Linked DNA regions of Homo sapiens: regions 2, 3, 4 and 5 are each reported to be linked to region 1. The links are microRNA targets in miRTarBase. Many come from high-throughput screens and were not tested one by one. Region 1 holds a microRNA gene; each other region holds the end of a gene's coding sequence.
What was found. Region 1 holds the annotated microRNA hsa-miR-485-5p (AGAGGCUGGCCGUGAUGAAUUC, at 2,214-2,235, opposite strand). A microRNA usually pairs through its seed, bases 2 to 8, with sites in the 3' UTR of a target mRNA and lowers its output. Matches are read on the target gene's strand: a 7mer-m8 pairs with bases 2 to 8, a 7mer-A1 pairs with bases 2 to 7 and ends in A, and an 8mer does both.

Region 2: the mRNA of FLOT1 is a reported target of hsa-miR-485-5p. Seed matches in the 3' UTR shown: 8mer at 569-576.
Region 3: the mRNA of VPS26C is a reported target of hsa-miR-485-5p. Seed matches in the 3' UTR shown: 7mer-m8 at 3,555-3,561, 7mer-m8 at 3,378-3,384, 8mer at 3,137-3,144 and 7mer-m8 at 3,101-3,107.
Region 4: the mRNA of ZNF43 is a reported target of hsa-miR-485-5p. Seed matches in the 3' UTR shown: 7mer-m8 at 2,737-2,743 and 7mer-m8 at 2,892-2,898.
Region 5: the mRNA of C1orf174 is a reported target of hsa-miR-485-5p. Seed matches in the 3' UTR shown: 7mer-m8 at 3,714-3,720 and 7mer-m8 at 3,580-3,586.

The regions. Positions count from the first base shown.
Region 1 is chr14:101,052,558-101,057,661 of GRCh38, reverse strand. MIR485 (microRNA 485) reads right to left here and starts at 2,243; the gene lies at 2,171-2,243. MIR382 (microRNA 382) reads right to left here and starts at 3,356; the gene lies at 3,281-3,356. MIR134 (microRNA 134) reads right to left here and starts at 2,975; the gene lies at 2,903-2,975. It overlaps MIR668 (microRNA 668), which reads right to left and starts at 2,404; the gene lies at 2,339-2,404. It also overlaps MIR323B.
Region 2 is chr6:30,723,558-30,728,661 of GRCh38, reverse strand. It overlaps FLOT1 (flotillin 1), which reads left to right. Exons shown (of 13, transcript NM_005803.4): 13 at 517-953. The coding sequence ends at 546. TUBB (tubulin beta class I) reads right to left here. Exons shown (of 4, transcript NM_178014.4): 4 at 3,240-5,104. The coding sequence ends at 4,265. Among named protein-coding and RNA genes, the nearest start is that of TUBB, 5.8 kb to the right of the region's middle.
Region 3 is chr21:37,221,325-37,226,428 of GRCh38, forward strand. It overlaps VPS26C (VPS26 endosomal protein sorting factor C), which reads right to left. Exons shown (of 8, transcript NM_006052.2): 8 at 2,098-4,302. The coding sequence ends at 4,220. It overlaps DSCR9 (Down syndrome critical region 9), which reads left to right. Exons shown (of 3, transcript NR_026719.2): 3 at 1-412. Among named protein-coding and RNA genes, the nearest start is that of DSCR9, 15 kb to the left of the region's middle.
Region 4 is chr19:21,803,153-21,808,256 of GRCh38, reverse strand. It overlaps ZNF43 (zinc finger protein 43), which reads left to right. Exons shown (of 4, transcript NM_003423.4): 4 at 1-3,311. The coding sequence ends at 650. Among named protein-coding and RNA genes, the nearest start is that of ZNF43, 30 kb to the left of the region's middle.
Region 5 is chr1:3,885,877-3,890,980 of GRCh38, forward strand. C1orf174 (chromosome 1 open reading frame 174) reads right to left here. Exons shown (of 4, transcript NM_207356.3): 3 at 4,693-5,104; 4 at 3,257-4,197. The coding sequence ends at 4,084. Among named protein-coding and RNA genes, the nearest start is that of C1orf174, 12 kb to the right of the region's middle.

The DNA.
Region 1 (5,104 bases):
GCTACATGGAGAAGCCACATTAAGACAGCTAGTGAAAGCCTCAATGCAAAAAACAGTGGACAATAGCTATAAATTTCTGAGAAAAAACAAGTAGGCTGAGACTTTTATACCTAGTTAAGCTGTCCCTTGTGCATAAAGAGATATATACTCTCAAATGCACAGGAACTCAAGGGTAGTGTCTATGAGCTATTCTCACAGAAACAATAAGATCATTTCCATTGAGAGATAAATTAAACTTAAAAACTAAAGAACGGAGAAACCTCAGTTAAAAAAAAACAAACCTTGTGGTCAGAAATGAATTCATTTAAATATAGAACTATGGCAAAACACCTGCAAGAATTATAGTTCTAGAACAAATTGCAGATATTTATAATGTAAAATTAAAATGTATAATTGAGAAAAAGCAGGAGATAGTAAGCAAAGGAAGAATAAGAATGCTGACTTCTTTATCTTTCTGAACTAGGAGTGAAATTGAAATAGTTAAAAACCATAACAATCCTAACCACTTAATTTTTACACTCTAATTTTTCTTAATTTTACAGGGATCTTTTAGGAGTTGCTACCTGTGGTGGTAAAGCGAGAAACATTTATCAATCATTTCAATCTCCTTTAGCTTGTTTTTTATGATAAATTCAAGGAAAATTATAGTTAGCATTTTTAATAAAATGATTAGGTACAGTGTGATCTCATATTTTCCCTGCGTCTGTCTTGTTTTTCTATTTGCATGTATGCTCAGACAGGTGTATGAAATTTCTAAAGCCCTTAATGGTTATTTCTGGGTGCCAGAGAATTGGGCAATTTTCCTTCTTTTTCATTTAGATTTTTCCACATCGCTTGAATTTTATTAAGCATGTGTCATTTTCATAAATATGGTAATAAGGTAGAATAATTATCCTTTTTGAAAAGAAAAACAAGAAATTGAAAATGCAACTGTCTTCTGTTCTTAAATTTGCTGTGGCCTCCAGATCAACAGATGTGGTGAGTCACCCTTCCAGTGAGTCCCCAAGAATGCTGAAATCAACGCCCCTTCCCTGAATTTGTCAACATGTCTAAGAAGTCCTTCCTCCATGGTAAGATTTAATAGTGAAAGAGAAGAGAACTATACATTGTTTTTCTTTAAAAAAAAACACAAAACCCCAGAAGCATCATGGGCACCACCACTTCCTCAGTCACAGAGGGGTCTTGAGCACAGATCACATGCTTCTTCCCCAGGAATGCACTGGCTGAGGATTAGGAGTGCTAGCAGCACCTACCCATTGGTTCCAGGGCCACACACATGTTCAGTTGCACTGGTGTGGAACCAACATGAGTATGGTGTCCCCTAAATCGGCATCAGGTCCAAGAAGACACCTGGTGAGATCTGATACCGAAAAGAGGTCGACCGTGTATTGGGCATCATTAAATAATGCGAACTCACCACGGACAACCTCCCTCCGAGTACCATGAGGTGGCACTGCTCGCAGCATTCCTGCATCTTCTGCACAGCCTGGGCAGCTTGGGAGTGGCCTCTGAGGGTGGATGGGACCCTGAGGATGAGTGGACCAGGTGGCTCAAACCCATGCTCTCCGGCCAACCCCAGGTTCACCAAGCCAGGATTAGTGTGCACAGAAATACCACTTCTTGTGCTCAGCTGGCCATGCAGGCAACATTTAATAATGCAAGGATGTCAGTGGCACAGGAGTCATTAAATATGAAGCAAACCACACACAAATGTGTGTGCAAAAGCAGGCTAAGCACTGCCTCCTTGGTAAACCTGGGATTCCCTTACAGGAATTCTCTGGAGGGTGTAAGGCTGCTGTGGGTTAGTAAACCAGGGGTCGCACAGAGTCCTGTTCCTGTTTTCTTCTGTATCCCGACGGCTGACTAATAAAAGATGCTTCTAGATGCCCAAGATTCAACTCCAAGGTTGAATTTGATAGGAATAAAAAAAGAAGTCAGCCATGTGTATTTCAATCTTAACTTTTAAAAAATTAGGGCATCCCAACAACCTCTCTCGATTTTCCTAAAGTTGGTAGTGCCCCAGGAAGTTGTTTTAGGGTCAGCTTGGACTCTAAAGTTAGTAGGTCAGTTACATGCATCCTCAGGAAAATGCTTGCCATGGGGTCAGCCATCCAGAAACCTACCTTGGAAGCAGCACTGGCTCAGGAAGCCCTCCGAGGCAGAATTTGACACTAAAAGAGAGGAGAGCCGTGTATGACTCGCTTTGATGAATCGAATTCATCACGGCCAGCCTCTCTCCAAGTACCACACATGAACACTGGTGAGAAATCCATTGCCTCTCTGGCAGAGGTGGCCGCCCTTCTCGGGAGTCCTGTTAGGAATGGGTGGGATAGTATTGGGTAGTGGGCCGAGCCGAGTGACATACACCCACATTAAGTGCATGCTCACCCGAGGCGCACTTACCTTAAGGGAGTGCTGAGGGCACTGCCTTCTCCCCAGCAGCAAGGATGCAGTTCGTCCTTCCAGACAAGACAGGGAGCTTTTGCGTAGCTCACTGGTCCCTGACAGGAGAATCATGGCCGCTTCCCAAAGCCGCATTATCTCCATGGAGCCTCCTAGGGAGAGACAGGATGCTGGGTATTAGAGGACGACGTGACAGACCTAACAAAGGCAGCACATGCTCTGGGAAGAAGGATTCAGTCACACACCCAGGAGAAAAGCTGGCCCACATCAGGTCCCTCAACAGAAGACAACATGGCGTCCCACATCGGAAGTCAACACTTCAAGGAGGCTGTCACAGTGGTGAAGGGGCTGCCAAGGCTGACTCATTGCATTTTAAGTAAACATACACCCCCAAGAGCACGTGTCATCGCAGTCCACCAAGCAGTCACAGCAAGTCCATGGCCGCTTCCCCAGAGTTGGTGGGAGCTCTGGAAAGTCTTCCTGGAGTGGGAGTGATGCTGAGGGTTGGTGACTAGGTGGCCCACAGGGTGAACACAGTGCATGCCCCTCTGGTCAACCAGTCACACACCCTGGACGGTGCTGACACCAACATCTCTTCTGGAAGTCGGCCTGGGGCCCAGGGAGCCTCTCTTCAAAGTCTTGTGAGGTGACGCTGGTGACAGAACCACAGCTGATTCCCCAGAGTTGGTGAGACCCATGGGAAGACCTCCTATAGGTGCATGGGAGGCTCGGATTATCGGGCCAGGTGACTTACAGCTAGGTCAGCGCATTGTCCATGGCCCGCCATCCATTCTTGGCTTTTCCACATGGTTGACACAAAGACTATCTTTCCTGAAGCTGCCATTGTGTCCAGGAAGTCCTTAGAGGTAGCATTTGGTACTGAAAAAAGTGTTGTCCGTGAATGATTCGTCATAAGTAAAGCGAATCCACCACGAACAACTTCTCTTCAAGTACCACAGAAAAGCAGAGACAAGACAGACAAGGAGTCCCCTTCCACTTCTCCAAGGGGAGTGGCTGCCAACCACCATCCTGTGGACAGAGTGGACACCGAGCATTAGTGAGGCAGCTTACGGGTGTCCTAGGAACACACTGGAGTTTGGGCAACCCTTCACTCACCTCCCTTGGAGTGGTGCTGGCACAGTCCCCCTTCCCTGGAGTTGAAATTGTGGTCCTGAATCCACACGCACAAGGTTTAGAAATAAGAAGAGGGAAGCCACTTGTCACACGCCAGGAGCACTCCGCAGTGTGTAGACCCCAGGGTTTCTGAACAGGGCCTTGGACTTCTCAACAGAGCACACTGAGTTATCCATCAAGCACATCAAGGTGCCAGCCAGGCTCCCGCAGGGCCCACTGAACTAGGGAGGTCCAGAGGGGGCCCCCTTTTGCCACTGCAGGTGCCCCTAGAGAAACTGCCCAGCTCAGGCACGCCAGGCTCCTGGTAGGTTCCCCATCACTGCCCTGGGTAGATTCTCTATCAATGCCCTTGTGGTCAGAGTGATCTTTCCAACACAGACCACGCATCCCCCCTGCTCACAACCCTTCCAAATCCCCCATCTCACTCAGAATAAAACCTGGAGTCCTGCCTCTCCCAGCTCAGACCCAGCGACTCCCAGCAGCTCGGTTCAATCCCACTGGCCTTCTTGCTTTTTCTTAAAGATGCCAGGGGGCTTTCCATGGGCCTTGCCCTCCTCCTGAAATGCTCCTACCCCAGACCTTCCTCTGGTCCACCCCACTCCATTCCCACCCACATCCTCAGAGAGAGCTTTCCAGACCCCTGTATTTAACACAAAGGTCCACCTGCTTTTACCTCTTTCTGTCACTGTAACCCGCTTTCCCTTTCCCCATAAAACCTAGCAGTGGACAAAATTACGCTTCCTAATTCATGTGTTCTCATCCGTCTCTTCCACCAGAATGTAAAGTCCACATGAGCAAGAACTTGATTTCATTCACTGCTCTCTGCTAAGGTCCAGAATCACCTAGAACACAGTGTGCACTCCATCACTATTTATGGAATGACCAAGTCATTCCTTGTTATTTGATCAACTCATGAACCATGTAGTTATGCTATAAACAAAAGAATCTGATTTTTTTAAAAAGAGAGAACTTTATCGAAACAAAATCATGGTGGCCAAAGTCACCAACCCTCTCAATAGCCATTATGGCCATGGGCAGGACACAGCTCTGGCAGGAGAGTGAGCTCAGGGAGACGCCTCAGAAACAAAGCTCAGACTGCTCAACTAACTCTCCACAAACTCCAACAGATGTGGATGCCAAGTCTCCCCAGAGGGCGGTGCTGCTTCCAGAAACCCTTCCCTGGCAAGATTTGGCACTCAAAAATTCTGCCCTGGAACAAAAGCAATAATGATGACCAATTACCTATCAGTCAGTCCGGCTGATGACAGTAACACTACCGAGCCAGCATGTCTCCAGAGATTCATCTTACCAAGGGTGAGGGTCACTTGGAGCAGGTGACAGACGTCTTGTGTGAATGGGCCTCTCACTGGTCAACTTCCCCCAATAATGTAGTGCAGACACCAAAGCCCCTTCCAGAAAATCACAGCCTTAGAAGTAACCATCTTCCTCAGAGATTCGATTCTGGTCATGGCTGTGGCACATGAAGAAGCTAGTGCACTGCGATGGCCCGTTCACATACATACCTTGGGTGGGAGGTGAAGCCAAGACCCCTTGCCTGAAGGCGGGA
Region 2 (5,104 bases), not on the chromosome of region 1:
CCCATCTCTACCAAAAATACAAAAATTAGCTGGGTATGGTGGCGCATACCTGTAATCCCAGCTACTCGGGAGGCTGAGGCAGGAGAATCACTTGAACTCAGGAGGCGGAGGCTGCAGTAAGCCAAGATCGCACCACTGCATTCTAGCCTGGGTGATAGAGTGAGATTCCGTCTCAAAAAAAAAAAGAAAAAAAAAAAGCGTATGTAAATAAAAGCACTGGATCATACCAATGACCTTCAAGCTGGGTTCCTTGGAGCCTCCTGGAGGCCTGCAGTAGAATATTCAGAGCTAAGGAGAGTGTGCAAACAAGGCTCTGCCCCCTCTCCTCTCTTCAGTGATTTATTGTATGTGGGTCCTGATGTCTTTGTTTGGGGAAACAGGTGGTAGGGCACCAGAAAGAACCCTGGCCGTGTGTGTTCTGCCTATAGCCCATTCGTCTAAACTGGGGCCCGGGAGAGTAGGGGCCTCAGCCTCCCGAATGTTCCCAAGTGTCATCTACTGTTGTCTTTTTGCCAGGTGAATCACAAGCCTTTGAGAACAGCCTGAGCCTTCAGCCCTCACAGATGCCCAGCCTCATAGCTGAAGTTGCCTGAATGATCCTCCTGTTGCATGTAACCCACTGGCCTCCCTGAGCATGTCCATTGACAGTGAGGTCCCACCCCTCATCTCTCCTTGCCAAATAGTTTGTGCCTTGTCTTGAAGGGGGTTGCTCCCCTTGCCAACCTCACACTGCTATGATTGCCAACTCCAGCGGTCCCATGTCAGCCTTCTGATGATCCCACTCCACCCCACCTCAACTTATTTAACTTCCTAATTAAATCAGACTGTTTGAGCCTGTTGTCTAGAATATTTTCCTGACCAAGACTGAGGGATGGGCTGGAGGTTTTCAACTTTGCTACCCAAATAAATTGCTGTAAGTAAGTACTAATAAAACAGAAGCAACTGGAAATTAATGCTTGGCCCGGCACAGTGGCTCATGCCTGTAATCCCAGCACTTTGGGAGGCCAAGGCAGGCAGATCATCTGAGGTCAGGAGTTCAAGACCAGCCTGGCCAACATGACGAAACCTTGTCTCTACCAAAAATACAAAAATTAGCCAGGCAGGGTGAAACATGCCAAGTAGTAGTCCCAGCTACTTGGGAGGCTGAGGCAGGAGAATTACTTGAACCTGGGAAGCAGAGGTTGCAGTGAGCCAAGATCGCACCACTGCACTCTAGCCTAGGTGACAGAGTGAGACTGTTTCAAAAAAAAAGAGAAAAAAAATGAATGCTAGACTCAGGTATGGTGACTCTTGCCTATAGTCCTAGCTACTTGGGAGGCTAAGGTGGGAGGATCACTTGAGCTCAGGAGTCTAAGGCTGTAGTGAGCCATGATCACACCACTGCATTCCAGCCTGGGTGACAAAGCAAGATCCTGGCTCTATTAGAAAGAAAATGAATGCTAGAATGTAGCTTCTTCCCTTGCATACAATAGGCTTTCTTGCATACAATAGGCTTTCTAGAATGGGAGAAAAGCAAGTTACTTATATACTGTCAAGAGTTTTAGAGTTAATTTTTCCCCCCAACAGTGTATTATAGTCAGAAAAGCATGCTAAAATAGAAGGAATGTTGGGAATAATACTAGTTCCTAGAATTCCTGAAAACATGGCAAAAGGAATTATTGTTTTCAGGGTAGCTTTGAGACTTGCATTGTGAACTTAAAAGTATGAGGTAGTAGATGGTACAGATTGTTTTAGAATGGGACCATAAGGTAGCAATCCCGCCTAGTTATCCTTTTTTTTTTTTAAAGACAAGGTCTTGGGCTTGGGCCGGGCACGGTGGCTCATGCTTGTAGTCCCAGAACTTTTTGGGAGGCTGAGACGGGTGGATCACTTGAGGTCAGGAGTTTGAGACCAGTCCTGGCCAACGTGGTGAAACCCCATCTCTACTAAAATACAAAAATTAGCCCGGCGTGATGGTGGGTGCCTGTAATCCCAGCTACTTGGGAAGCTGAGGCAGAATTCCTTGAACCCGGGAGGCAGAGGTTGTAGCGAGCCAAGATCGCGCCAATGTGCTCCAACCTGGGCAACATAGCAAGACTCCATCTCAAGAAAAAAGAAAAAAAAAGACAAGGTCTTGCTCTGTCACCCAGGCTGGGGTGCAGGGGTAGGGTCAGGGCTCATTGCAGCCTCTACCTCCCAGGCTCAGGCAATCCTCCCATCCAATCCCCACCCCCCTACCCCCAACAACCACCACCCCCCTCTACCCCAGCAGCTGGGACTACAGGCATGCACCACCATGCCCAGCTTTTTTTTTTGTTAGATGGTTCACTGCTGCCCAGGCTGGTGTGGAACTCCTGGGCTCAAGCCATCCTCCTGCCTCGGCCCCCCAGAGTGCTGGGATTACAAGTGGGAGCCACCATACCAGGGCTTCACTAGTTATCTTGGTGTCATAGGTTGACTAAGCCCACAGGATCACAGGAAATGGCCATGGGTACACATAACCCAAAGGAATCCTGGGCTGGGTGGCCAAGGCCAGTTCAACCATTTATGGTTCAGTACATCTGGGTGGGATGAAAAACTTGCATTTATTTCTGCAAGTTCCCAGAGGATGTGGATGCTGGTCTGGAAACCAGTTACACGTGATTTGTCATTCTTCTCAGCTTCCATTTTCCATCCCTGGATCCTGCATCTAAGCCTATGCCTTCCCCAGTTAAGACTCATTGGTGGGCCTGGTGCACTGGCTCACCTGGCTTATGCCTACAGTCCCAGCTGCTTGGGAGAATGAGATGGATTGTTTGAGCCCAGGACATCAAGGCTGTAGTGAGCTGTCAGAGACTACAGTAAAGACTGACTGGTGCTCAGAGCAGTTTGGGTACCAGAAACAATGATGTGAGGGTCTATAAAGCAGTCAGTGTCCTTACCAGTACCTCCCTGAGATACCAAATCGGCAGACACCCAAGTCCCTCATATAAAATGTAGTACTTGCATATAACCTGTGTACTTCAAATCATCTCTACGTTACTTGTAATACCTAATCTAATGCAAATATTATGTAAATAATTTATACTATTATTGTTTAGGGAATAATGAGAAGTCTATACATGTCCAGTACAACTCTTTTCCCAATATCCAGTTGGTTGAATCCGTAGGACAGGGACTCAATATTAAGTGTCAATTTAAGGAGAGCAGTGCAACTGAACTCAGGCCCCATGCCTCCATCAGCCAGCCGTGTTTCCCTAAATAAGCACACATCTCGCAGCTTTTTTCAATTCCCATTTATTTTTGGCTCTTGGGGCGATGTCATCTTTTCAATATGAAAAAAAGCAGCAAGTTCAACATAAAATAGAAATCTCAAATGTAGGATAGAACAAAACCAAGTGTGTGAGGGGGGAAGCAACAGCAAAAGGAAGAAATGAGATGTTGCAAAAAAGATGGAGGAGGGTTCCCCTCTCCTCTGGGGACTGACTCAAACACTGATGTGGCAGTATACACCACTCCAGAGTCAGGGGTGTTCATTCTTTTTTGGGAGTAAGAAAAGGTGGGGATTAAGAAGACGTTTCTGGAGGCTTAGGGACCAAGGCTGGTCTCTTTCCCCCCTCCCAACCCCCTTGATCCCTTTCTCTGATCAGGGGAAAGGAGCTGAGTGAGGGAGGTAGAGTTGGAAAGGGAAGGATTCCACTTGACAGAGTGGGACAGACTCCTCCAGAGTAGAGCTTGGAGGGAGATTGAAAGTGGAGATAATACTGCTGACACCTCCCTTGAAGCTGAGATGGGAAATGGACATACTTAGAAATTTAGTGACTTTAATAGCCTGGATTTCCCTCTCCAAAACTTTTAGAATGGAAAATCCCATCCCCTTCCTTATATAGTGACTTCTACCCACTACCTTCTACCATTTTCTACTTTGGGCTTAGGATGATGGCCATTATCTACATGTGTTTTCAGCACCTGGTTGGTTCTAAATGGGATCTGGAGACCCAGCTTCTTGGAGATTTTTAAGAGGAAGTATTAACTGGACAAATGGAATGGGCACCAGAAAGAAATACAGGGTCACCCAGAATGGCAGAAACCTAGGTTTCCCAGAGTGGAAAGAGAGAGGAGACATTCAACAAACAAGTATTTATTGAGCGCCTACTATGTGCCAGGCACTGTTCTAGACCCCCCCCAGAAGAAAAAACAAAAAACAAGATAGAGGCAGCAAACACAAATTCTGAGGGAGAGGAAAGGGGCAGTTGAGTAAGACGGCTAAGGGAACTGAGAAGCCTGAGGTGATGGGGGCTCTGCCTTAGGCCTCCTCTTCGGCCTCCTCACCGAAATCCTCCTCCTCTTCTGCGGTGGCATCCTGGTACTGCTGATACTCAGAGACGAGGTCGTTCATGTTGCTCTCAGCCTCGGTGAACTCCATCTCGTCCATGCCCTCGCCTGTGTACCAGTGGAGGAAGGCCTTCCGGCGGAACATGGCAGTGAACTGCTCCGAGATGCGCTTGAAGAGCTCCTGGATGGCTGTGCTATTGCCAATGAAGGTGACTGCCATCTTGAGGCCACGAGGTGGGATGTCACAGACGGCTGTCTTGACATTGTTGGGGATCCATTCCACAAAGTAGCTGCTGTTCTTGTTCTGCACGTTAAGCATCTGCTCATCGACCTCCTTCATGGACATCCGACCACGGAAGACAGCAGCCACGGTGAGGTATCGGCCGTGGCGGGGGTCACAGGCAGCCATCATGTTCTTGGCATCGAAGACCTGCTGGGTGAGTTCCGGCACTGTGAGAGCTCGATACTGCTGGCTTCCACGGCTGGTGAGAGGGGCAAAGCCAGGCATAAAGAAATGGAGACGTGGGAAGGGGACCATGTTGACTGCCAACTTGCGGAGGTCAGCATTGAGCTGGCCAGGGAAACGGAGGCAGGTGGTGACACCACTCATGGTGGCTGAGACAAGGTGGTTCAGATCCCCGTAGGTTGGTGTGGTCAGCTTCAGAGTGCGGAAGCAGATATCATAGAGGGCCTCGTTGTCAATGCAATAGGTCTCATCAGTATTCTCTACCAACTGATGGACGGAGAGGGTGGCATTGTAGGGCTCGACCACGGTGTCAGACACTTTGGGTGAAGGCACCACACTGAAGGT
Region 3 (5,104 bases), not on the chromosome of region 1:
TAGGCAGGCGCGCCCCGCCCTCCTGGTCACGTGACCACGCCTACAGCCGAAGAGGATGGGAAAATGCGGCCCTGTTCCTGAACAGGAAGCGGAAGCAGGAAGGAACTGAGAACACCAGCATCTGCTGCCGCCCTGAATCAGCGTTAGCATGTGGAGGCAACCTCAGCCCCCAGTTTTTGAAGAAGGTGATTCAGATTCAGACACAGGAATTATGGTGACGGTAGAAATGGACTGGAAGGTTCGTTCCCCTTGCCCACCAAGACTCCAGAGCAGGTGGGTTCTTGATGTCTACTCTGCATGAAGCCCTGGGCTTTCCGGCCCTCCCTACTTTTCCTCCGAATTCACAGCACAGCGGAGCCAAAATGTATTCCTGCCAAAACGGGCATTTCCCAAAAGAAAATATTGTTTTAGATTCATTGTTCACAGCCTCTTTTTTTTTGTTGTTCATTTGAAGCAATTTTTCTTTTTTATTATTATACTTTAAGTTTTAGGGTACATGTGCACAGTGTGCAGGTTAGTTACATATGTATACATGTGCCATGCTGGTGCGCTGCACCCACTAACTCGTCATCTAGCATTAGGTATATCTCCCAATGCTATCCCTCCCCCTCCCCCCACCCCACAACAGTCCCCAGAGTGTGATGTTCCCCTTCCTGTGTCCATGTGTTCTCATTGTTCAGTTCCCACCTATGAGTGAGAATATGCGGTGTTTGGTTTTTTGTTCTTGCGATAGTTTACTGAGAATGATGATTTCCAATTTCATCCATGTCCCTACAAAGGACATGAACTCATCGTTTTTTATGGCTGCATAGTATTCCATGGTGTATATGTGCCACATTTTCTTAATCCAATCTGTCATTGTTGGACATTTGGGTTGGTTCCAAGTCTTTGCTATTGTGAATAATGCCGCAATAAACATACACGTGCGTGTGTCTTTATAGCAGCATGATTTATAGTCCTTTGGGTATATACCCAGTAATGGGATGGCTGGGTCAAATGGTATTTCTAGTTCTAGATCCCTGAGGAATCGCCACACTGTCTTCCACAATGGTTGAACTAGTGTACAGTCCTACCAACAGTGTAAAAGTGTTCTTATTTCTCCACATCCTCTCCAGCACCTGTTGTTTCCTGACTTTTGAATGATCGCCATTCTAACTGGTGTGAGATGGTATCTCATTGTGGTTTTGATTTGCATTTCTCTGATGGCCAGTGATGATGAGCATTTTTTCATGTGTTTTTTGGCTGCATAAATGTCTTCTTTTGAGAAGTGTCTGTTCATATCCTTCACCCACTTGTTGATGGGGTTGTTTTTTTCTTGTAAATTTGTTTGAGTTCATTGTAGATTCTGGATATTAGCCCTTTGTCAGATGAGTAGGTTGCGAAAATTTTCTCCCATTTTGTAGGTTGCCTGTTCACTCTGATGGTAGTTTCTTTTGCTGTGCAGAAGCTCTTTAGTTTAATTAGATCCCATTTGTCAATTTTGCCTTTGGTTGCCATTGGTTTTGGTGTTTTAGACATGAAGTCCTTGCCCATGCCTATGTCCTGAATGGTAATGCCTAGGTTATGGTTTTAGGTCTAACGTTTAAGTCTTTAATCCATCTTGAACTGATTTTTGTATAAGGTGCAAGGAAGGGATCCAGTTTCAGCTTTCTACATATGGTTGGCCAGTTTTCCCAGCACCATTTATTAAATAGGGAATCCTTTCCCCATTGCTTGTTTTTCTCAGGTTTGTCAAAGATCAGATAGTTGTAGATATGCGGCGTTATTATTTCTGAGGCACAGCCTCTTTCTTTCGTCTCCCTTTCCTTTCCTCATCTCTTGCTCTAATTGGAGAATTTGACAACTCTGAACCTCTGACTGTGGATAACCCCAACTCCAGCAAGCCTGGGCAAGAGTGGGACAGTTGCAGCCCAAGGTAGCCAAACATCTGAGTTTTGCCTAGTAACAGATCATGGAGAGGTCAGACCAAGAAGTGGAAGGAAGTGGCCGGCCTGAGGCCTTTGTTTGGGCCACTCAGGGTTGAATGAAATGATAAAGGTAGCCACGTTGTCTGGATGCGCTTCAGGTAATAATTATTCTCTAAGGAAAGCAGTCATATTTATATCCATAAAATCAGTTTATTAAATTACATAGCAATATACATCCCAAACCTTTTCTCAAAATTGTCATTAGCTTTTTAAATTCGTTAAATATTTTCATCTCATTAAAAATGGTTTCTTCCTTTAAAATTTCCCAGAAAGTGTGGCCTCTGTTTTCTGCTACTCAGTTTAAACACATCATCAAGGATAGATAATTAATGTCAGGTGAGCATAAAAGGAGATTATAAACCAGAAATGTGTTTTCTGGGAACCAAGTTTCAAGTGACTCAGATAAGTTTTATTAATTTCATGGGTGAAGCCCCTGGATAAAGCAGTGCCTAAATCAGGCTTGTTTACCCTTGGCATTATGTCACCAAACACTGTTTCAGGATACTGGAAGTACATACAGCTTGGGAGGTCTTTGGCCTGAGCCTGTTTTGGCCAAGCCCATCCAGAATGAAAAGTACAAAAGAAGGCTAGTGTGTGTGCAAAGCAGCATGGCTTATTTTGAGGTCCTATTAGTTGTGGGCCAACAAAACAGTGGCAGGATTTGAAGGAAGAAATGTATTGCAATAGTCCATATCCTTCGAACCACAAAGGGAGACTGAGGAAATGCTGGCTTTAGGCCAAAAAACCCTGGCTCAAAACAGCTTCCTCCAGTGGCTCAGAGGCAGACCAAATTCATCAAGTCAAGGACCTTTTCCTGCTACCACCTTGCGGAGAGGGGCCTTCACCAGCCCACCCTGCACATGGGTTTCTGCTGTTCAGAACCTACCCAGTAACAACAGGAGCAAACATACATGTTTTCCCCTCATGTAACTTTGCATTTAAATATATTCTGGGAAACTGCTGGGCACAGTGGCTCACACCTGTAATCTCAGCACTTTGGGAGGCCAAGACAGGAGGATCACTTGAGTCTAGGAGTTCAAGACCAGCCTGGGCAACATAGGGAGACCCTGTCTACAAAAAATTTGAAAATTAGCTGAGTGTGGTGGCACTCACCTGTAGTCTCAGCTACTCAGGAGGCTGAGGGGAGGGATCGCTTGAGCCAGGGAGGTTGAGGCTGCCGTGAGCTGTGATCCTGCCAGTGCACTCAGCCTGCGTGACACAGTTTGGAAAACTGTCTCTCTCTATGTATGTATCTGTTCAGGGAAATGGCAGCGTGAGATTTTATGGCAGTTCTTGAGACTTCAGAAACACTTCGGCACCAGCCAAATCCCCCCAAGAGAGCAAGGAACACTTTTCCAGTTGCTTAAAAAATTTAAAGTTATAATGAAAAATGTTGTAAAAAGAACTACAGAGGCTGGGTGTGGTGGCTCACACCTGTAATCCCAGCACTTTGGGAGGCCAAGGCGGGTGGGTCACGAGGTCAGGAGTTCAAGACCAGCCTGGCCAAGATGGTGAAGCCCCGTCTCTACTAAAAATACAAACATTAGCCGGGCACGGTGGCAGTCACCTGTAATCCCAACTACTCGGGAGGCTGAGGCAGGAGAGTCGCTTGAACCTGGGAGGTGGAGGTTGCAGTGAGCTGAGATCACTCCAGCCTGGGTGACAGACTGAGACTCCGTCTCAGAAACAAAACCAAAAAACTACAGAATAGAGTAGGGGTGGAGGGAAGTCATGCATTTCCAGTGGCTAGCACTTTGCGCTCTGCCTTGGCGAGTATCTGCAAACTTCCTGACCATCAAGTGCGCTTGCAGCCATCCTGGATGTCAACTGGCCACAGACCCTTTGCTATGGGGAGTCCCTGGCTACATCCATTAGCAAGTCAGAGGTTTCCTTTTGTCCCCATGATGCCACTCTCCAGCAAGCTCAAACTGCTGTCACAATTGTTTTACTGTACCTAAAAAGGAACAGATAAGGCAAGAGCCACAGTCAATGTTTTCTGTGAAATGGTCTTGGCAAATAGCATTAAGAAATCTTGTTGAATTTCAAAGAAAAGGTCTGATTAGAGGTGCCTGTTGGAAGCAGAAGCCTCAAGAAATGAGGAAGGAAAGTTAATTTGAGGGTCTGTTTCATTTCTGATACAGAATAATCACAAAAACAAGTATATGCCGCTGGCTGTAGCTCCCCTTAGGATTTGGATAACCAGCTGGATTTCCAGATGGCCACTCCCGTTCTCTATGCTTCCCTCCTCCGGGCTATATCCTGCAGAGCTTCAGCGGGAAGTTCTCCGTGATGAGGTGGTCAGGGTGAAGCAGCACCACGATGTTAACCTCAAATTCTGAGAAGAGAAGAGAGGGTGGGTTTGTGCTCACTGTTACCAAGCAGCGAAACCACACGCCGCCACCACTGCAGTCGCAGGAAGCTCTAACGGCGAAGGAGCACCCGGTGCGGGTGGGTTTCATTGCTGTCCCCTCAGCGCCACCCTGACCTTTCAGCCAAACTTTCAGTGGAGATGACTATGCTGATGTCTGACTACCTCTGTCAACTTTCTCTAAGTGAATTTTTGTCCTCTCATCTTGGAACATGAGTGATCAGGCTTCACCAACTACACTTTCCCTGTCCCTTTGCTTTCCTAAAAAGGATATTCTAGAACCCTTTCAATTCATTTGTATTCCTTTGCCTTATTTTTACATTTCCTACGGTTCTTAATGAAATAGCAGACTGTGAACCAGCGCATAGCTGTCTGGGCCCATGTCCCCAATCCCCAGGTGAGAAACAGTCTTCAGAAGCAACAATTTCATTGTTGCTCCATTGGATACTATTCATCCATCACCTTTCAGCAAACAGGATTCCTTCTCCACCGACTCTTCAGCTGATATGGGTGAGCCTTGTTGATCCTAACAAAAGGGATGTGTGTGAAGAGGAAGCACCTGACGACAAACAAGCACCATCTCCTTCCCCAGTGTGAGGAGGGGTGGGAAGGGCATCGTGTGGGCAGAGGGCACCCTGTGCTGAGCCCCACACTGTGGCAGCTCAGCTGTGGAAGGGGCCTTGGAGTCAGTGCCCACCTGTGGCTGGGGTCTGCAGGACAACATCCCCGTGTGGGAGTGTCCACCTCCGCCCAAACATCAGCCACAAGA
Region 4 (5,104 bases), not on the chromosome of region 1:
ACAAATGTGAAGAATGTGGCAAAGCTTTTACCCAATCTTCAAACCTTACTACACATAAAAAAATTCATACTGGAGGAAAACCCTACAAATGTGAAGAATGTGGCAAAGCTTTTAACCAGTTCTCAACTCTTACTAAACATAAGATAATTCACACTGAGGAGAAACCCTACAAATGTGAAGAATGTGGCAAAGCCTTTAAGTGGTCCTCAACCCTTACTAAACATAAGATAATTCATACTGGAGAGAAACCCTACAAATGTGAAGAATGTGGCAAAGCTTTTAAACTGTCCTCAACCCTTTCTACACATAAGATTATTCATACTGGAGAGAAACCCTACAAATGTGAAAAATGTGGCAAAGCTTTTAACCGATCCTCAAACCTTATTGAACATAAGAAAATTCATACTGGAGAGCAACCCTACAAATGTGAAGAATGTGGCAAAGCATTTAACTATTCCTCACACCTTAATACACATAAGAGAATTCATACTAAAGAGCAACCCTACAAATGTAAAGAATGTGGCAAAGCTTTCAACCAATATTCAAACCTTACTACACATAACAAAATTCATACTGGAGAGAAACTCTACAAACCTGAAGATGTGACAGTGATTTTGACAACACCTCAAACTTTTTCAAACATAAAATAAATTATACTGGTGAGAAATTCTAGAAATGTAAAGAATGTGATAAAGGCTTTACATGGTTGTCACACTTGATTGTAGGTAAGATAATTTACATTGGAGTAAACTTCTACAAGTGTGAAGAATGTGGCAAAACTTTTAATTAATGCTCGTACCTTATTGCACAGGAAAGAATTTTTACTTGGAAAAAGGTATATACACAAAGAATGTGGAAAAGCCATTAATATGTGCTCATATCTTACTCAACATCAGAGAGTCTGTACTTAATAAAACCATTATAGATGCAACTAGTGTCAAAAGATCTTTCAGAAAATAAAAGCCTTTAAAGTGAAGAAGATAATTCATTCTGAAGACAAACATTACAAATATTAAGAGGGTTGTAGTACCATTACTTGCATCACAGATCTTATTGTACACATTTTGTACTAAAGAAAACCCTGAAGCAGTTGCTCAAATACTGTTCAACATCAGAAAATTTATATTGGAAAAAACCCCTGGAAAATGTAATAAATTTGTAAAAACAGTTTTGAAAAACTACAGCTTATAAAACATGAGGGTCTATAATGCTTGGTTGATAGTACAAAGTTTATTCAACATCAGGGAATTTATATTGGAGAAAAACCCTACAAATGTAATCAGTTTGGAAAAACATTTTTAAAAAAACCACAGCATAGAAAACACCACAGGGTTCATACTAAAATATGTTTTTGCAGATGCAGTAAAAATGAAAAAAATTTAATCCGAAATTAAGTTTATGTAAATATCTGAGAATTCACAGTAGAAATATCTAAGGCGCGGACACTTCAGACATTACACTAAATCAGTGCTAAGTACAGAAAACAACACAAAATAAAACTTGGTGGATAAATTATTTGTATATAACATTAAAAGAAGTAGAAGATTTTCAGTTATAATTACAATTAAAGTATACTTTTATCTTGAAAAAATTACTGATTTTTAAATTAGTGAATAATGATGTAATTAAACTCTCAAATAACTTTATGCTCTTTTTTCATTCCTGCTATATTCACATGTGAAAGCATGTGACCAATTGTTGCTGCACCAAAGATATGAGAGATTCTTTTATTAGGTGGGCATTATTTAAAACATTTTTTATGGAACAGTAAGGATATTAAAGTGTAAGATGCAGCCAGGCATGGTGGCTCATGCCTATAATCCCAGCACTTTGGGAGGCTGAGGCCGGTGGATCACCTGAGGTCAGGAGTTTGAGACCAGCCTGACCAACATGGTGAAACCCTGTCTTTACTAAAAATACAAAAATTTACCAGGCACCTATAATCCCAGCTACTTCAAAGGCTGAAGCAGGAGAATCACTTGAACCTGGAAAGTGGAGGTCTCAGTGAGCCGAAATCATACCATTGCACTCCAACCTGGGCAACAAAAGTCAAACTCCATCTCAAAAAGAAAAAAAAAAAAAAAAAAGATGCGTGATGAAAATGTAACTGGAGAGGCTCTTTGTGGTTAACTTATAAAGGAGTGATGCAGGAGATAGGTTTTCAGAGTAATATTCTTCTGCATTATAGTGACAAAAGTTTTTTATTTTAGTTAAAATTGGTTAAATTAGTAAGTCATTTTACTTATTGTAATTTTATGTAATTAAATGTACATTTTTAAATTTTTAGATTACATGTAAATATAACTTTTAAAAAAATGTGTTAAGACCATTGTACATTCAATGAAGCATTATTATGCTTCTAACTTTAACCTATTTCACCTTACTCAAGAGTGTATGTAAAAGATGGTAACAATATACTATTTGGTAACATAATGGACTAACATTTCTATTAATCTATTTCACCAGTGGCTTTCAACTGCAAATAAGTTAAAGAATATTTTTCTATAGGTTAAATATTCTTTTTTGTCTTATTTAAACTTACTGTTCTTAATTTCTGTGGGTACATAGTATGATTTTAATTACCTTATTTTATTCTTTGTGCTATTCATAATTTTTTTTGTTTGTTTGGTTTTTTTTTTTGAGACAGAGTCTTGCTCTCGCCCAGGCTGGAGTGCAGTGGCGCGATCTTGGCTCACTGCAAGCTCCGCCTCCCAGGTTCACTCCATTCTCCTGCCTCAGCCTCCCAAGTAGCTGGGACCACAGGCGCCCACTACTTGTTTGGGTTTTTTTTTGGAGATGGAGTCTCGCTCTGTCACCCAGGCTGGAGTACAGTGGCATGATCTTGGCTCACTGCAACCCCCACCTCCCCGGTTCAAGTGATTCTCCTGCCTCAGCCTCCCGAATAGCTGGGATTACAGGCGTCCACCATCACACCAGGCTAATTTTTGTATTTTTAGTAGAGATGGAGTTTCACCATGTTGGCCAGGATGGTCTCGATCTTCTGACCTCATGATCTGCCTGCCTCGGCCTCCCAGAGTTCTGGGACCACAGGCATGAGCCACTGCACCTGGCCAAATGTGTATATATTTATGCAATATATAACATGTTTTGATACAGGCATATAATATGTATTAGTCACATCAGGATAAAGTATCTATTACCTTCAGCATTTATCCTTTGTATTACAAGCCAATTCTACACTTCATTATTTTAATGTACAATTAAATTGTTATTGACTACAGGGTCATTTTAATTATAAAAATTATATAGAAGTATAAATAAAGTCCATACATTCCTGAGTCATGAATAAACATTGGTATATATTTTTCTTTGACTATGTGGCCGCTCTGCCTGAAACACATACAGAGTTTTAGTTTTGACTTACATAGGGTTAAATATACACATACATTACTCTAAAGATAAACCTTAGGTGTAAGAAAATTATGGAGTAAGTAACTGTTCTTGTATGAGTGTCTACCTATTTTAGGAAGAAAAAATCAATATTGAAGCAAAACAAGTAATTTTAATAAGGTGACTAATTTACTAGAAAACTAAAAACCTCAAAAATGCTGAAAGGAAATCTATACTGTCTGCTTTCTATTGAATTCATTACTGTAAGATCTTATGGTTTATGGTTCAGAATCTCCCCATGCAAACTTTTTTTTTACTTGCTTGGTACTCATGCTAGACCCATAATTTTCTTTTTTATTATTTTTTCTTTTATAGTTTATGAGGTATTATGTAAGCTCACTGGGGATTATAAGAATGATTTTTATGAAATTTAGTTGTGCACACAAAATAATTTTTAGGTGCAATTCCACAATTAGTGTTTTAAGTTATATTGAGTTAGGATATTCGATTTTGTTTATTTAATTGGAGACTTCTATATAAACCTACTTTAGCTATTGTTCATTTCACTTTCTATAATTGACATATGTAAATTTATTGAGCTAATTAGTTCAGGTAAATACTAGGGAGGCTTCATAAGTTCTGAAGTTTTTTTGTTCTGTTTTGTTTTGAGACAGAGTCTTGCTCTGTCACCCAGACTGGAGTGCAGTGGCATGATCTCGGCTCACTGCAACCTCTGCCTCCCAGGTTCAAGCAATTCTCCTGCCTCAGCCTCCTGAGTAGCTACAGGCACACACTACCATGCCCAGCTAATTTTCTGTTTTGTATTTTTAGTAGAGACAAGGTTTCACCATGTTAGCCAGGATGGTCTCCATCTCCTGACCTTGTGATGTGCTCACCTCAGCCTCTCAAAGTGCTAGGATTACAGGCATGAGCCACTGCGCCTGGCCTTATGAGGATGTTTCTATACATAAATATAGTGAACAAGCATGATGGTGCTTGCTGTGTAACAGATTGTCCATAATAAGCCAAAAACATTTCTGCTGGAGTTAGTTGGTAGCTTCAAGTCAGAGACGGAAAATATCAGTGATGAAATAATATTGATTCTTACTGTGGAGAGAACATTTTTCTTATCTTTAGTAAAAATACAAAAATTAGCTGGCCGTGGTGGCATGCACCTGTAATCCCAGCTACTCAGGAGGCTGAGGCAGGAGAATCACTTGAACCCCAGAGGGAGAGGTTGCAGTGAGCCGAGATCACGCCATTGCACTCCAGCCTGGGCGACAGTGAGGCTTCATCTCAAAAAAAACAACTGTAGTTTTGTAAGCATCCTCAAAGAAATCTACACCTGTTTCCCAAACACTTGCAATGCAAAGTTAAATTTCACAGAATCTTTTCACAAGAGTGGGTAGACAGCTGTTTTCTTCAAACTGAGACCTGGACTATAAGGTCTTGATTCTAGCAGATCTGACAGGACTACCTACAAACCTGCATGCAGGGCTGTGTGAGTGGCTGCTGGAGCACATTGGTGGGCTGAGAAGGGCCATGGAGACATTTATGATCACCAGACGCCTTCACAGCTGCATTATGCAAATGCTGGGCTTCACTTCCTAATGAGTTCTAGCAGACTAGTGTTTCCACCAGTCCCTGACCCATGCCTTCTGAATCTCCCTTGCCCAGGGTCCTCACAGCTGTCCACTATGTATGTCTCAGTCTCTGCTGATAGAGGCCACCTAAAATGAGAGCAGAATAGGCC
Region 5 (5,104 bases), not on the chromosome of region 1:
CAGACGTGGGCCTTTTTCAGAGACACATTCTTTTGTTGTCTGTCTGTTTTTTAAGACAGGGTCTTGTTCTGTCATCCAGGCTGGAGTGCAGTGGTGTGATCTCAGCTCACCGCAGCCTTGAACTCCTGGGTTTAAGTGATTCTCCTGCCTCAGCCTCTGCAGTAACTGAGACCCCGGGCATGTGCCACCATGCCTAGCTAATTTATTTTTATGTTTGTAGAGATGGTCTCACTATGTTGTCCAGGTTGGTCTCAAACTCCTGGGCTCAGGCGATCCACCCACCCTGGCCTCCTGAAGTGCTGGGATTACAGGCGTGAGCCCCTGCACCCGGCGCAAGACACATTCTTGAGGGAAGTCCTTCCTTCTCAGCGGTCCAGGCATGCTGTGCCACCTTGCCCTGGACACACAGGGCGGCTATCCCTCTACCACGTGGCTCCACGGTGCTGCCCCACTGCCTACGACTAGGCCTAGAAGGTTTTGTGTCCCTCAGGCTTTCTGCGCCATCCTGCTGCCGTTGGGCCTTGTCCGTGCCCCTCCTCACCCTTCCTGACTTGAGGCTTCATTTCTGCAGGAGTTGAGACACCGGAAACCCAGGCTTGTTGAGCTGTGTGTGAAGCGTGCAAGGCTCTCCTGGCTGTGACATGGTGTTTTGGTTGTTTTTTTCTTGCTTCCGGGCCCTTGGCTGGGCAAGGTGCTGGTGATTGTTACAAAGAGCTATCACCTATCAGGAGTTATGTCACCCAGAGTCTCAGGTTAGAAAAGGTGGCTGAACCTCTGCAACAAAGAAAGAGTGTGTGGTCTGTGCATTCTCACACAAGAGGGAGAAAAGTTCTAGGAGCTAAGAGTGTGGAATTCTGTGATCTGTGGGGCTGAGGGTCACCTGCTGGGAGGTCCTGGCATCAGTAAGAAGCTTCCAAGGGAAGAGCCCAGTAAAGGCCTGCAGACGGCCTCAACCAGCTCAGTGCCAGGCTCCATCCAGACGGCAAAGCTGCAGCAAACACGACCACAAGACATGGCCCTCCTGCAGCTCAGGAGGAAGCGCTGTAGGCAGAGCCACAGTCGGCCTGCGCCAGGGGGTGTGCGTGAGCACAAATACACTCTTTTGTATCTTATCTTTTATTCCCTCATTCGCCCCCCTTTGGTCAGTCCCCCTAGGTCTGTGCAGGCTACAGTCCACATGTAGACTAGGAAGTGTTTCTACCTGGCAGTGCTTGTTAGTGCAGGTTAACCACTGTGAGTGAATAGGGGTGGCCCCAGGAACACACACACTTTCCACTCTGCGTGCTGCGTCTCCTCTGCAGGTGTATCATCATTTGGGACAGTGCACCTCACTGAAGTCTGCTTAGAGGATGGCAAAATTCTCGTCACCACCAGGATAGGTGCTGTCATTTAAAAAAAAAATTTTTTTTTAATTTTTTGAGACGGAGTCTCGCTCTGTCACCCAGGCTGGAGTGCAGTGGCGTGATCTTGGCTCACTACAAGCTCCGCCTCCTGGGTTCACGCCATTCTCCTGCCTCAGCCTCCCGAGTAGCTGGGACTACAGGCACCTGCCACCACGCCCGGTTAATTTTTTTTTTTGTGTTTTTAGTAGAGAGGGGGTTTCACCAGGTTAGCCAGGATGGTCTCGATCTCCTGACCTCATGATCCGCCCGCCTCAGCCTCCCAAAGTGCTGGCATTACAGGCGTGAGCCACCGCGCCCGGCCAGGTGCTGTTATTAATAGTTATTCATGCAGCAATCTGAAGTTGTACTTTATTTATTTATTTATTTTAGAGGCAGAGTCTCGCTCTGTTGCCCAGGCTGGAGTGCAATGGCGTGATCCCAGCTCACTGCAACCTCGGCTTCCTGGGTTCAAGTGATTCCCCTGCCTTAGCCTCCCAGGTAGCTGGGATTATAGGCGCCCACCACCACGCCCGGCTAATTTTTGTATTTTTAGTGGAGACGGGGTTTCACTATGTTGGCCAGGCTGTTCTCGAACTCCTGACCTCAGGTGATCTGCCTGCCTCAGCCTCTGAAAGTGTTGGGATTATAGGCGTGAGCCACTGTGCCCGGCAAAAGTTGTAAATTATTTTCCCTGGCTACCATAAAATGACTTTATAAGCCACATTTCCAAATTATAGTTTGTTGATCAATAAATCACAAAGTTATTCAAAACAGGTGAAAGTCACAGCTCATGAGAAAAGGATCACATTAGAAGTGGAGAATGACACCTTCAGGGAGGGCAGTGTTTGAATAGTAAAGAGCGGAAACACTTCTTACAGGGCACTTCAACTATATTTTGCTTCCAATTTATCTGTTATAGAAAATCCTTCCTGTGCTTCATAGGACATTTTCACAGGGTTAATTCTAGCTGCTCTTGTAATTAAACCAGAAACATATAAAAGCTCAAAACCAGCAAGACTCACTTGTTCCCTCATGAAAAGGCCCAGTCTTCCCACATCGCAGGCAACTTCTCCTTGTCCTTGGTCACCCGGGGACCCCAGCTTGCTCCTGGTTGGTCCACTCAGCTTCTATGTGCAGGTGGCGGCAGGAAGAGGCCATGGAGAGAGCACTCCCAATGGCTTGTCTCCACTGCCCTGGGCGAGAACACACGGTGAGGTGCTCCCTGACGCCGCTGGGGCTGGGGAATGCAGTTCTCGTCAGGCAGCTGCACACGGACCTCTCTATGGCCTGGAGGAGAGCATGGCCTTCGCTGGATGGCTGACCGTCTCCACCACACAGGATAGGAAAGCCCGACACTTCTGCAGCAAAGTGGGAGTGGAAGTACACTCGAGAGAAGGGAAGAGGCCCTGTCCCGGGGGCCTCGGTGGTTAACAGGTCTAAAAGATGGACCCGTGCCGGGCGTAGTGGCTCACGCCTGTCATCCCAGCACTGTGGGAGGCCGAGGCAGGCGGATCACCTGAGGCCAGGAGTTCGAGACCAGCCTGGCCAACATGGTGAAACCCCGTCTCTACTAAAAATACGAAAAATTAGCCAGGCATGGTGGTACATGCCTGTAATCCCAGCTACCTGGGAGGCTGAGCCTGGAGAATCGCTTGAACCCGGGAGGCAGAGGTTGCAGTGAGCCGAGATTGTGCCACTGCACTCCAGCCTGGGCAACAGAGTGAGACTCAGTCTCAGAAAAAAAAAAAAAAAAGATGGACCCAGCCTTATGAGCATTTGGGAGCATGAGACTGAGGCAGGATGTGTTTCCTCTACTCGGCTCCCAGGCATTGAGAAAGGAATCCGGTTTTACGAACATACGACTGCTTTCAAAATATTTTCAAAATATATTTTATTTCTTTCTTACATGTATTTTGCAAAATTTCCAAGGTAAACATTAGCTCCACATACAGAAATAAAAGAGTTCTTTAAGAACTAGCATTGAATTCATCACAAGAATCATCAAATTATGATAATGGAAAACAAACTTGCCTATGACCAAAGCTACTGAGCTGAAGTGAAGAGCTGTCTTTACAAAGATCCCTCTCATTAAGCCCACTGCCCTGCAGCTGACTCAAGCCATCATCATGTATGTACGTGTATAAGAAAGGACACTGGCCGGGCATGGTGGCTCGCGCCTGTAATCCCAGCACTTTGGGAGGCTGAGGCGGGCGTATCACGAGGTCAGGAGTTTGAGACCAGCCTGGCCAACGTGGAGAAACCCCCGTGTCTACTAATAATACAAAAACTAGCTGGGTGTGGTGGTGTATGCCTGTAATCCCAGCTACTCAGGAGGCTGAGGCAGGAGAATCACTTGAACCCAGGAGGTGGAGGTTGCAGTGAGCCGAGATTGCGCCATTGCACTCCAGCCTGGGCGACAAGAGAGAAACTCTGTCTCCAAGGAAAAAAAAAAAAAAAAAAAAAGAAAGGACATTGGCACAGTACAGCAGCTTTGCAACCTCAAAGATGGTTTGAGTTTTAGTTCCCATGAGTACATCCTCCACAGGTATTGGGTGCTTTGCACTATTGACTTAGATGGGTCAGTTCTGAAGTTTGATTAAGACATTCTCTTGGAGATACATTTTATATAAATCTTGTAATGTGCTAAATTGTCAAATTGTTAATGGTACTAAATACTCAAGGACATTATTTTGTATGGCCCCTACATTTCTGCATCATCGTCGTCGTCATCATCATCATCTTTGGCTCTGAAATGCATTTTTCTGAACTCTCGTCTGCTCATTGAAGGACAAGATGAAGACGCAGGTGGGAGGTCCTTAGTGGAGAAGAAAACATGACTTCAGTCATGAGCAATACATATCTGCACCCGCATTTGCAATGTGCCCCACCCAGCGGCTCTAGGGCTCGCAGAGCGCTCTTCCCTTTTAGACGTGTGAAAATGCCTGAGTCCCAGCACTCGCCTCTAGATGAGAACTTCCTCCCTACTGGGCTGATCGAGTAAAGAGAAGGAAAGGTGCTGGGTTCAAAACAAAAGAAATTAACAGCAAGCGCGGGGTGGATGTTCAAAAAAACCACAAACCTGATTTCATGGAAACACACCTTTCCCGAGAGCAGTGATTCTCAGCTCGGGAGATGCAGGGAGAGCCCCCAATTAGCCAACGGTTTCATTTTCTCCTCGTGGGTTAAAATGATTAGTTTATGTTTAATGTTGTGTCGAGGCATTATTTACCTGCACTGAGTGGGGAGTGTGTGACCTGAATGTGCAGCTGCTGCCTGAGTACCCACGGGAGGAGGAAGGCGCCGCTCTTACCTGCATGAGCTCAACGTTTCCAAAGAACCGGCTCACGGGCATTGGCTGATTGCTGTCGTCATCTAGAAAGACGCTGTTGTCCATCTGAAGTGGTGGCTTCTGCACATCCTCTGTCTGTAGCCCTGGCTCATTCTGCTTCTGCACAGTGGAGCTGCTGTTGGATTCTTCTGCTCCGGACCCGGCACTGTGTTTTGGCACGGACAGGCCATCTCTAGTCTTTGCTAAGCGAGAGTCACTCACAACTCTGCAGCCACCGAGAGGAAGACTTGCAGCCCCCTGCTGCACAGAAACGCCAGCCTCGCTGCCTGGAAGCAAGGCACTGCCTTCAGCAAACTCATTTTCACAAGGGGTCTCAGGTGTCACTTTTGGCAAAGAAGCGCTGTCATTCTTAGGGACAAGCTTCTGTAATTCT